Linked DNA regions of Homo sapiens: region 2 is reported to be linked to region 1. Evidence: microRNA targets listed by miRTarBase, many of them from high-throughput screens and not tested one by one. Region 1 holds a microRNA gene; the other region holds the end of a gene's coding sequence.
The links. The annotated mature microRNA hsa-miR-7702 reads CUUAGACUGCCAGACUCCCUGA and lies in region 1 at 3,024-3,045, opposite strand. An mRNA with a match to its seed (bases 2 to 7 or 8) in the 3' UTR can be bound and repressed. Matches are read on the target gene's strand: a 7mer-m8 pairs with bases 2 to 8, a 7mer-A1 pairs with bases 2 to 7 and ends in A, and an 8mer does both.

Region 2: miRTarBase lists CYP4V2 as a target of hsa-miR-7702. Seed matches in the 3' UTR shown: 7mer-m8 at 1,125-1,131.

The regions. Positions count from the first base shown.
Region 1 is chr9:111,268,170-111,273,557 of GRCh38, forward strand. MIR7702 (microRNA 7702) reads right to left here and starts at 3,045; the gene lies at 2,987-3,045. LOC105376219 (a long non-coding RNA gene) reads right to left here. Exons shown (of 2, transcript NR_188622.1): 2 at 4,374-4,796.
Region 2 is chr4:186,209,661-186,215,048 of GRCh38, forward strand. CYP4V2 (cytochrome P450 family 4 subfamily V member 2) reads left to right here. Exons shown (of 11, transcript NM_207352.4): 11 at 809-3,803. The coding sequence ends at 981. It also overlaps a transcript of KLKB1 not described here. Among named protein-coding and RNA genes, the nearest start is that of KLKB1, 15 kb to the right of the region's middle.

The sequences.
Region 1 (5,388 bases):
AAAACATAATAGACATTCAACAAATGATTATTAAATTTAATAAAGACAAAGTAGCTGTAAAGCAACTTGACATTTGTTCTTGCATGAAATTAAGAGTGAATTTATCCACTGAAGTTTTGAGCAATGTAGAGTTTTCTCCCCTACACGTGATATTTGAAGAGTTTCTTATTTGGACTTGGCATTTGTGTCCACAGTACTATTCTAAAACAGCTAGTCATATTGCTTACATAACTACCTCAAGATCCAGAGACAATGGAATACTTTTTATGATCACCACCTTCTGAGAAGTAGGTCAGAAACACCATATTTTACAGTTTTTCCTCGAGTATAAAGATAACCATTACTTCCCATTGCCCCAAAATGTCCCTTGTGAAGAGGAAGAGCATGGCTAAACTGGCTTGTACTCCCAGCGTTACAGAAGCATGAGACTGGCTCTACCTTTTACCATTGCATACTTAAGCTTGGGCAAAGAAGACTCCTGGCCTTCTCTAGCCATCTTCCTTCTCACAAATCAAGACCTTTCTGGAGCCAAGGGTATATGCTCACCCTCAACCTGCTTCTCTCCCTCTAGACCAGGCTTCTTGTACCTGGACCCCAAAATTCTCTGCCAAAGTGTCCCTGAGCTCACTTCTAGAGCCAGAGAATGCCTCTTCCCTAGGCCCTGTCTCTTGAGAACAGAACACACCAATGACAAGAACATCCTTAGGCCCAGGGAATGGCCAATAGAGAGCCATTTGTGGGGATGCGAATGGGGATTGTAAATATGGGATAGAGTTTCCACACACATGCATGTGAGACCTCTCATTGTATAAGACAGACCTAGAGTGAGAAGAGAAGGCAGAGCCAGAATATGAACTGCAAGACAGGTTCTCCCTGCTGCTATGTTCAGAAGCAAAACTTGCAGAAGTCCAAGACCCCTGACCTTCCAAGTCATTATGAAGATATATTAGTCAAGGTAGGTGGATAGAAGGTATTTTATTAGCTTGAAGTATCACTTGTGAATATTTAGACAGCATAGCATGTGGGCACTCACTTGTAGCCTTGCACTGGGCTCCACCAATTTTAGAAGTGGGCCTGAACTTACACCTACAGAGAACTGTACTGGTAGAGCAGGTCTTTGGTGCACCCAACAGAGAAAGCAAGGAGAGGCAATATCAGGAGTCAGGCAGGCAAAGGGGGAAGAGTAGTGAGAGTTTCTGCACACACATGGCATATCCAGGAATTAGCTCTTAGATAAAACAGATGAGAAAAATAAATTCTGAGCGTAGAGCTAAGTTTTGAGCCTTAACTAGAGATGGCATGAGGAAGCAGCCATGCAGAGTCCTAAGAAAGAAGTCTGGGCCAGCATCCAGGAGAACACGCCAAGCAGGAAGAAATAGACAGGAAGCCAATTCCACACCAGGCATCATTTTCGGACTCTGGGAGTGCCACTCATGATGCTTACAATGTGAATGGTGCCCTGGGGTTAGTACAATGCTGCAGCAAGGCAGCAAGGCTAGCAACAATAATTCCATGTTTCTACAAATATAGGATGACCCTGCAAGTGACAGCAATGTCAGCTATTCCTCTTGTGCTTGTGTCACCTGAATATCAATGAACAGGGTCTGCAGTGTAAGATTCTAGCGATGGAAGTCTCCAGAGGTGGTGGGAGCTGTTGACTGGGCCCATGCTGAAATAACATTGCATCAACCACTTGTAAATGCCAAATTCCACAATGGTAGGAAGGCCAACTGAGTAAAAGCTGACTGGGTATTCTGTCTAGTCTGTTACATGTCCCAAGAGAAATGAAGCAGGGGACATCCTTTCTAAGTCATGCTCAAAATCAAGAAACACAGATAAGTCAATGCCCAGTTCTGTCTAAAGACAGAAAATTTTCCAGTCAGAATATATATGCTAACAAAAAAATCCTTGGACAATCTCTCAGGAATTCCAATGTATCACAGAATGTATGTTAGTGAAGCTAAGTGTAGTCAAAGGATTGATTCTGGAATCACAAATCCAGGTTCCTGATAGTAAGCAACAGAAACTAACAAAAGCTAGTGTAAGCAAAAATGATGATGATGATGATGATGATGATGATGATGATGATGATGATGATGGAATGCTTTGGAGGAGCTCTCTGAATTGAAGGGAAGTCTAGTAAATTAGTCTTGGAAAAGACAAACCCTATAAACACACCAAGGGATCTCATTTAGAAAAAATCTTAGGAAACTAGAAGGGTGGATAAGTTTCAATGATTCTCAGTACTTTTTTCTCTATATACAGGAGTCATATTTCAGAGAAAAAAAAGCATTCAACTGGCCTAGTCAAGACTATTCATATACGTAGTGTATAGGAATTAGGGAAAACAGGATACCTTGACTAACACTCCTACAAAACTGCATCAAATAGGGAAAGTAAAATTCCCCTCCAAAAGAAGGTGAAATGGACACAAGGCAGCCAAAAATTAGTAAAGGTCATTGCAGCTACTTATTACATTTGTGAATTTAGGTAAACCATTTACCCACTTGGATTTTCTGCTAAAATGTGACATCATAGGTCAGAGATCTTTGTCTCACTTTCTCATTGATGTATCCCAATTGCCTCAGGTGAAACCTGACACATGGAGGATGCTTCATGAATACTTGTTGAAAGAATGACTCTCTCCAAGACTCTTCCCACAGTTAAAATGGAGATGTCTTGTAGAGTCCACAAAATGTCTAGTACATTGCTATAACATAGTAGCTGCTCAAAAAATTCTGATTATAGTTACTGTTTTTATTAGGATAAATAGTACTAGAATAATTTGCTATAAACAACGTAGAAAAATTCCAGTGTTAATATATCCAAGTTACTCTATGGAATCCCAACACAAAACAAAAGTTATTCATTATGAATTCAATGAAGCCTGTTACCAAATCCTGGGACAAAGTAAATGATTTGACCGATGATGTAGTCATATGAACAGAAATGAAAAAGTGAATTTAAAAAGACTCGCATTGGTGCCACACTTAGACTACCAGACTCCCTGAAACTGCATGTCCTCAGGGAGTCTGGCAGTCTAAGAGTGGCACTAAGTGTCATTAGTGCCAGACCCAAAATATAATAACCTGATTATCTCTGGGCTTTCAATAATGATGTCATTCTTTTCTTTCATTCTTAGTTGATTTAATTTTCCTTACTACATAGCAGATATTCCAATAATTTTCATAAGTCTCTGCAAGACCCCATTTCCACCTAGACTCCAAATCATATTCCCCCTGCTTTTTCCTGGGCATTATTTCAGCAATCATCTCTTCTTTACTGGGTCTTCAATCCCCAACACACCCCCACCGTTTCAAGTTTCCCTTTTCTCAGACTACAAAACAGCTCACTATTCCCTTTCCTAAAACTACTTTTATGACATTTATTCTCCTTCAATTACTGTATCTTTTCTGCCTTTGCTTTCATTGACAATCTGCTTTGCAAGTTCTCTACACTCAGTCTCCTCTTCCCACTCACTCTTCAGCTCATTGAAACTGTCTCCTGCCCCCTCCACCCTTTTGAAGCTTTTGAGACAGAAGTAGGCCCTGCTGAGTGCTAGATCCAGGTCTGCTACTTCCATGGCCCCCACCCCAGTCCCCTCTTCAGTATCTGAGCATTCAATTCTAGTTGTATTTTCTGGCTTGTTCTCTCGGCAAATATACATTGAGTACCTATTAGTCACCATCCTGGGTACCAGAAATATAAAAGTGAATAAGATCTAAATGCAAAAATGATCTAAACGCAACAGTGATCTAAATGGAATGTGGTATCCTGGCTTGAATTCTAGAATAGTGAAAGGATATTTGTGGAAAATCTGGCGAAATCTGGATAAAGTCTGTAGTTTAATTAATAGCATTGTACTAATGTAACTTCTTAGTTTTAACAAATGTACCCTGGTTATGTAAAATGATAATGTTAGGGGATGCTGGGTGAAGGATATATGAGAATTTTCTATAATATCTTTGCAACTTTTCCATAAATCTAAAATTATTCCAAATTGTAAAAGTCTTAAAAATTGAGTAAGGTATGTTCCCTGCCATCAGTGAGCTCACAGTGATACACAATCTTGGGATAAATGAGGCAAATTGTGGGAGAAAAACTATGAACTACCGATTCTTCCATCGAAAATGAATGCAATCTGCCTTTTTTCCCCATCATGAGTTGTACAATTTTGTATGCATCTATGTACCACACTGTAAATATTTCATGAGGACAGGACAGAGGAGTATCTAAAGGTGAATTTTTTCACAGTTCTAAATAATACATTTTGAGGCTTTGGGAGGTCTCAGATTGATCGAAGCCAACCCTAGCTAAATCACTCCACTTTCTAAGACGTTGAATTTAAACATATTACTTACATACTTTCTTTGTTCTTTTCAAGGCAAATAGTTTAATGTTTGAGGGAGTAGTAGGCCAAATAGAGGTGATTTTTGTTGTTGTTGTTGTTGTTGTTGTTTAGCCTTCTTATTGTCTGGCTGCCAGGGTTCCTGGAAATGGGATTTTTAACGAGCTTTTTTTTTTTTCTGGAGAAGACTTTGATGTGGTTGAAAATTTATTCTCTCTCGAGCGTAGGCAGGGCACCAATTAACCCACACAGAGTGCCCTTGCTGTCCTCCCAGCTTGGAGTTTATTACACTTACCATGTAGTGTATAACACTATTATCCCATCTCCTTTGTGCTTCCCTCCTGTGGACTCAAAGCAATTTCTTAAGCAGCTTTCTGCTGTCTCTCTCCGTCTTTTAAATATCTCCATTTTGCTTTTTTCCATAAATAATCTTCTGATTGCAATGGGGCTGGAAGAGAGAGGAAAGGTGAAATAGGAGAGCTGCTTCTTCAACCAGCTGATTGAGCCAGGAATAATGGTGGTTTTAATCACTTCAAAATCCATTTATGCAGAACCTACAACATGATAGACATAAGGGTACAGAGATGAATAAATAAGAAATGGGACTAAGGACTTGCAATTTTATGGTGGAAAGTGTCACATACCTAAGTACAGAACAAGGCAGAGAGAAATGAAGGCTACAATTATTTCCCCGGTATTTTTTTAAGTGACAGTTACATTAAAGAATTGTTTTTGTACTACAATGACATTGCTCTTGGTTAAATGGAAATAAAGCAACTCTGTGACTCTAAGACCTTCAGTTTGATGGTCGGAAAAAGAACTAAGAAAGTTAAAGAAAAGTAATTTAAATATGAAAGTTGGAAGCATCAGGCCAAAATGTGCAGGGTCTCAAGTTGCCAGCATTCTGTTCTCCACTACTGCTCCAGTGGGCTGACTCAACATCTCTCTTCCTTCTCCATTTAGGGTTTCAGATTTTTCTTTTTAATAGAGACAAGGTCTTGCTTTGTCGCCCAGACTGGAGTGCAGTGGTGTGATCATAG
Region 2 (5,388 bases), not on the chromosome of region 1:
TCTGTGTCCTGATCTTCTCTCCAGTCAGACTACACTAGGGCCTACCCCAATGACCTCACTTATACTTACTGACCTCTTTCGATTACCTGTCTCCAAATACAGTCATATTCTAAGGTATGGGGGGGGCTTAGAATTTGGAGAGAGACACAATTACCCATAACATAAAACATAATTAGCTTCATGGTAGAGTTTCAAAATGTTGTAGAGTTTTAATTACAGTAGAATATAACTTATTGTGGTAAAAACTTTATTAATGATTACTTATGGTTAACCTAATTTTTGTGTTTATTGCTTTTAAGAATTTCATTTTGCAAATCAAAACAGCAAATGCTTGCCATATGGCCAGCTAGTACTTAAGCAAAATGAATGCACATCACCACCCTGCATTATAAACCCTTTTGGTTTTAGTATCTCTAGCATTTTGTCATTTATGTAAATGCAGACATCGGTAAAATGAGGCCAGAGTGAAACGGGTGAATCTGAAGCTTTTTTGGTGAATCCATAGTAAATGAAAGACCCACTAAGACATAATCTAGGGTAGTGAGTCTCAAGCTTGAAGGAGCTCAGGATTTATCTGGATCAGCTGGAGTACAAATTCTCTGATCCTCCCCAGCTATAGATGTGCAAGGTGGGATCAGGGAGGGAAACTCAAGACTCTTCATCTTTAACAGGTGTTCCAAGCCATTCTGGTTCTCCTTCCACCTACTGCGAAAATGTAAAGTGGCTCGCTTCCTATGACAGGACCTCTTGTTTCTCACATTTGGGGTAAATCTATAACTAAAGCGATGGTATCTACATTAATTTGAAGGTCAAAAGTTTGCTGTGATGGAAGAAAAGACCATTCTTTCGTGCATCCTGAGGCACTTTTGGATAGAATCCAACCAGAAAAGAGAAGAGCTTGGTCTAGAAGGACAGTTGATTCTTCGTCCAAGTAATGGCATCTGGATCAAGTTGAAGAGGAGAAATGCAGATGAACGCTAACTATATTATTGGGTTGTGCCTTTATCATGAGAAAGGTCTTTATTTTAAGAGATCCTTGTCATTTACAATTTACAGATCATGAGTTCAATATGCTTGAATCCCCTAGACCTAATTTTTCCTTGATCCCACTGATCTTGACATCAAGTCTAACAAAGAAAAAGTTTTGAGTTTTGTATTTTCTTTTTTCTTTTTTCTTTATTTTTTTTTTTTGAAACCGTGTCTCACTCTGTCGCCCAGGCTGGAGGAGTGCAGTGGTGTGATCTCAGCTCACTGCAACCTCCACCTCCCAGGTTCAAGCAATTCTTCTGCCTCAGCCTCCCAAGTAGCTGGGATTACAGGTGCCTGCCACCATGCCTGGCTAATTTTTTTGTATTTTTAGTAGAAACAGGGTGTCACCATGTTGGCCAGACTGGTCTCAAACTCCTGACCTCAAGTGATCCACCTGCCTCAGCCTCCCAAAGTGCTGGGATTATAGTCGTGAGCCACCACGCCTGGCCAGAGTTTTTTATTTTTATCACCACCATAGATGTTACAGTTGGCTGTGGTCACAAAAGTAGTTAATTGTGTCAGCACCCAAATAAACATCTAACAGGTTTCTCAACAGAGGAATCCACAGTCCAATTCCACTTCAATTGATAGACCCAAAAAATATAATTTAATCAAAGTTCTAGAGTTTTTGTTTGTTTGTTTGAGATGGAGTCTTGCTCTGTCGCCCAGGCTGGAACGCAGTGGTGACATCTCGGCTCACTGCAACCTCCACCTCCCAGGTTCAAGTGATTCTCCTGCCTCAGCCTCCTGAGTAGCTGGGACTACAGGCGCCTGCCACCACGCCCAGCTAATTTTTGTATTTTTAGTAGAGATGGGGTTTCACCATGTTGGCCAGGATGGTCTTGATCTCTTGACCTCGTGATCTGCCTGCCTCGGCCTCCCAAAGTGCTGGCATTACAGGCATGAGCCACCATGCCTGGCCCAAAGTTCTAGAATTTTTTAAAGGTATTCATGGTGACTCAGGAATACACACATACACACACACACACACACACACACACACACACATACACACATATAATTTGAAAGAGGTGAGTATGTACTCTGACTTCAGCTCTCAGGTTTTAAAAATTATATTAGTGGGACCAGTTATGACAAGAATAATCATTATAGTACTTTTCAGATTTTATAACCTGGAGCAGATTATTTTAAGTTGATTAGTAGGTTCTGTTACAGTTTTTCTTTTGATCGTGCACTTATAGTCTTCATTTAATTCCTCATAGAATCCCAGTCACCTTTATATATCATATTATTGGAAGAGATTCATCTTCATAATCTCCAGTTTTTTCACAGTGCCTCACAGAGTTAATCATGCCTTTTGGAGCTAGAAGGACTTTAGAACTTATCTAGTTATGCTCCTTTATATTATAAGTAAGGGAATAGAATCAATAAGACAGTTTCTGCCCAAAGTCATGTTACCAGTTGGTGACAGAGCTGGAAATACGTAGAGATCTATACCCTTAAATCTCTCCACTCACATGCTGATATACTTTCTACTACAATATGCTATAGCTTTATGGAACTCAGGGTGATGATCAGACGTGTCATTAGAACATGAGTCCTCTGCTTCTGATTCAGGCATACTTTTGGGATTCTTCCATCTTTAAAGGAAAAAGGAAGCCATTCATCTATATTTAGTAACCCAGTAATATCTCACTTAGTTTAGGGTTAGATCTTTAGTTAATTCAACCTTATAGATCATACTTATGAAGGTGATAACTGACACGTGTTCACTGAATTTTAATTTGATAGGCAATACATCTACCCACTCCATTATTTTTTAAAACTTCATTTAATAGTTTAAACAAGATTGGTTTTGTTTTCAATTTTTATTCACTCTTCATAGAATCACAATTACCTTTATATATCATATGTTATTGGAAGAGATTCCTCAGTAATCTCCAATCTCTCATAGTGCCTCACAGGGTTGGTCAATGGCTTTTGGAACTGGAAGGACCTTAGAACTTATCTGTTATGCTCCTGATAGCCAATAGCAGATAGAAGCTTGCAATCAAGAGGGTAGGACATGTGTTCTTCAATGGATATCAAAGGAAGAGGTTGCAAACCAAAGCCATTTGGCAAGCCCTGTAGCCTGGGCCATTTAAGACAGGGGCGGTCTCAGCCAAATTGCACCCATTTAACTATCCCAAAGAGCCACAGTGCCTACAACCCAGGCCCTAAGTTGATGAAGAAAAAGTCAAGGAAGGAGGTGATACAATTGGAAATATTCCCATCAAATGGTTAATCTTATTTAGAAAATGGGCATATTAGAAAAAGTCCTTCCAAGATGATTTTGGATAATAAAAGTTGTATTTGTGGAAATTGGTATTATCTCTGTTTTATGCACTTACATTTATCCCTTACATTTTGTTTTTAGTGACCCTACATGACATTAAATTTAAAGTAAAACATTGTTTAATGTTACCTTTTGGCTTGAGAATGTCTTTCAGCTCCAGAATTATTGTTACTCATATTTTAATCAGTAAGTCATTTAAGCTATGACAGAGTAGGAATTGAGAAATTATTTCATATGCTACAGTATTGAAATGTGGATGCTGCCTTGTTTTATAAGAAGATGATCAAGGTTTGTGTGCCCATTACCTTTCCTCTGCCTGAAAGACGTGTCTCAAGAAAAATAAATTCTATTTTAGATGCAGGTACTGCATTTTATTCTAAGAATTGATATCAATTCAAAACATAGAAAACTGTAAAAGATAAATCAGGAGATGGCTGATTCATAATGGGTAATAAAATAAATAGCACTTTCGAGCTGATGTCGTCAGTGACTCTTGGATTTTCTAACAAAAGGTTCCTTTACTGTTGTCATAGAGAGATTGTGAATTTCTCTGACTCTGAAGAATCAACTAGAAGAAGTAGAATCACCAGAACATTTTGCTCAGCTGAAAGCACAAAGTAAACTCAGTTACTGGGAATCAGCAAAAACCACAGGCATCACTGGTCCCAGGGATTTAGAGTCCAGAAACCTCTCCAGGTGATGGACTGTTGATTTGGGGCTCTATGCATTGTCACAGACAGCTGGGGATATCAGTTTCTGGACCAAATGACCCAATAAGAGATGCTGGTCGTAAAAATCCATTTTTATCTGGAATGTTTCTAGAAGATCAAAACCTTTTTCCTTCCAGCATCTAATGCCTGAGTGATACATTTAAAAATTTTTAGTCTGCGTGGGCACCCTCTTTTTCTAGGAGCAGCACTTTTTATTTTTGAAATTATCCTACAATGAATTACCGGCTTTTCTTCTGTTCTCATCTTTTTCCTTCCCCAGCATACACACACTGTAAATATGTGCCATATTCTTAGGCAATCCCACTTTCTCAACCTTTGTTGAGTGACCCAAGCAAGGTTAAATTCGAGTTCTCCCCAACGAGTTTTCCCAGCTGCAATTGAAGAAGAGATACAGTCCATCTCTGTGGTGGAAACTCCAGGTTGTGAAACTCAAGATCAATCAGCAATAGAACCTCTGGAGCAGCTGCTGGGTGATGAGAAGAAGCAGGCAGAAGAAATGGACAGAATCCTGGAGGAACCTGAGTCCCACATGGCAGGTGATGCTGAGGCTCACTGCATGTCTGCCCTGCTCACTCTTCAGTGGGTCCACCCTACTTGGGAACCCAAGAGCCAGTATATTGCCGTTTGCTTAAAAGGACTGTCTTTCATTTATGACCAAAAGCGAGTTAGTGTGTGTCAGGTCAGCCGAAGGATGAAGGAAGGGCCCCCATTCTCTGGATATGATCTTAGGTCTTCACCCTATTTTCTTTGTGCTGTTCAATAATTCTCTGTATTGGATCATCAGCATATATGCCCACCAGTCCTTTAAATGCAATACCATTTAAGAAAATGCAGAGTTTTCTCTTTTCTAGATAGTAGGAAAGTTAAAGTTACACTGCATTGTTTTAGAAGACAGCTAGGCTTAACCTAACACATCAGTCTAGTTTTTTGGTTCTGCCATGATGACTTTCTGGACTAATTAGTCATTTTTCTCCTCTAATTAAACCAGGTTCATTTTCCTGCTGGCTAGCTGTATGCCACATTTCAGGGATAAATCTCTCATCTCTAATTACTAAAATGGACTCGTTGCATCCTTGCCTCAGTTTCTTGTCCAGAAGTTCACCAAATGGTTATTTCCTTGGGCTGAATTCAGTTTTGGAATTAACTCCAGCATTTAGCTGTTGATCTTGTTCTCTTTATCCTAGTAGATAAGTTTTTGGCACGTTCTTTCTCCTTCCCATCATTATCTCTCCTCTTTACCCGTCACTTTCTTTCTGTTGTGGTTTGCATTTATTGATCTCTGCCTTTCCTGATACTACTCAATTTATGTTTCACAGAAATAACGGCTGTACT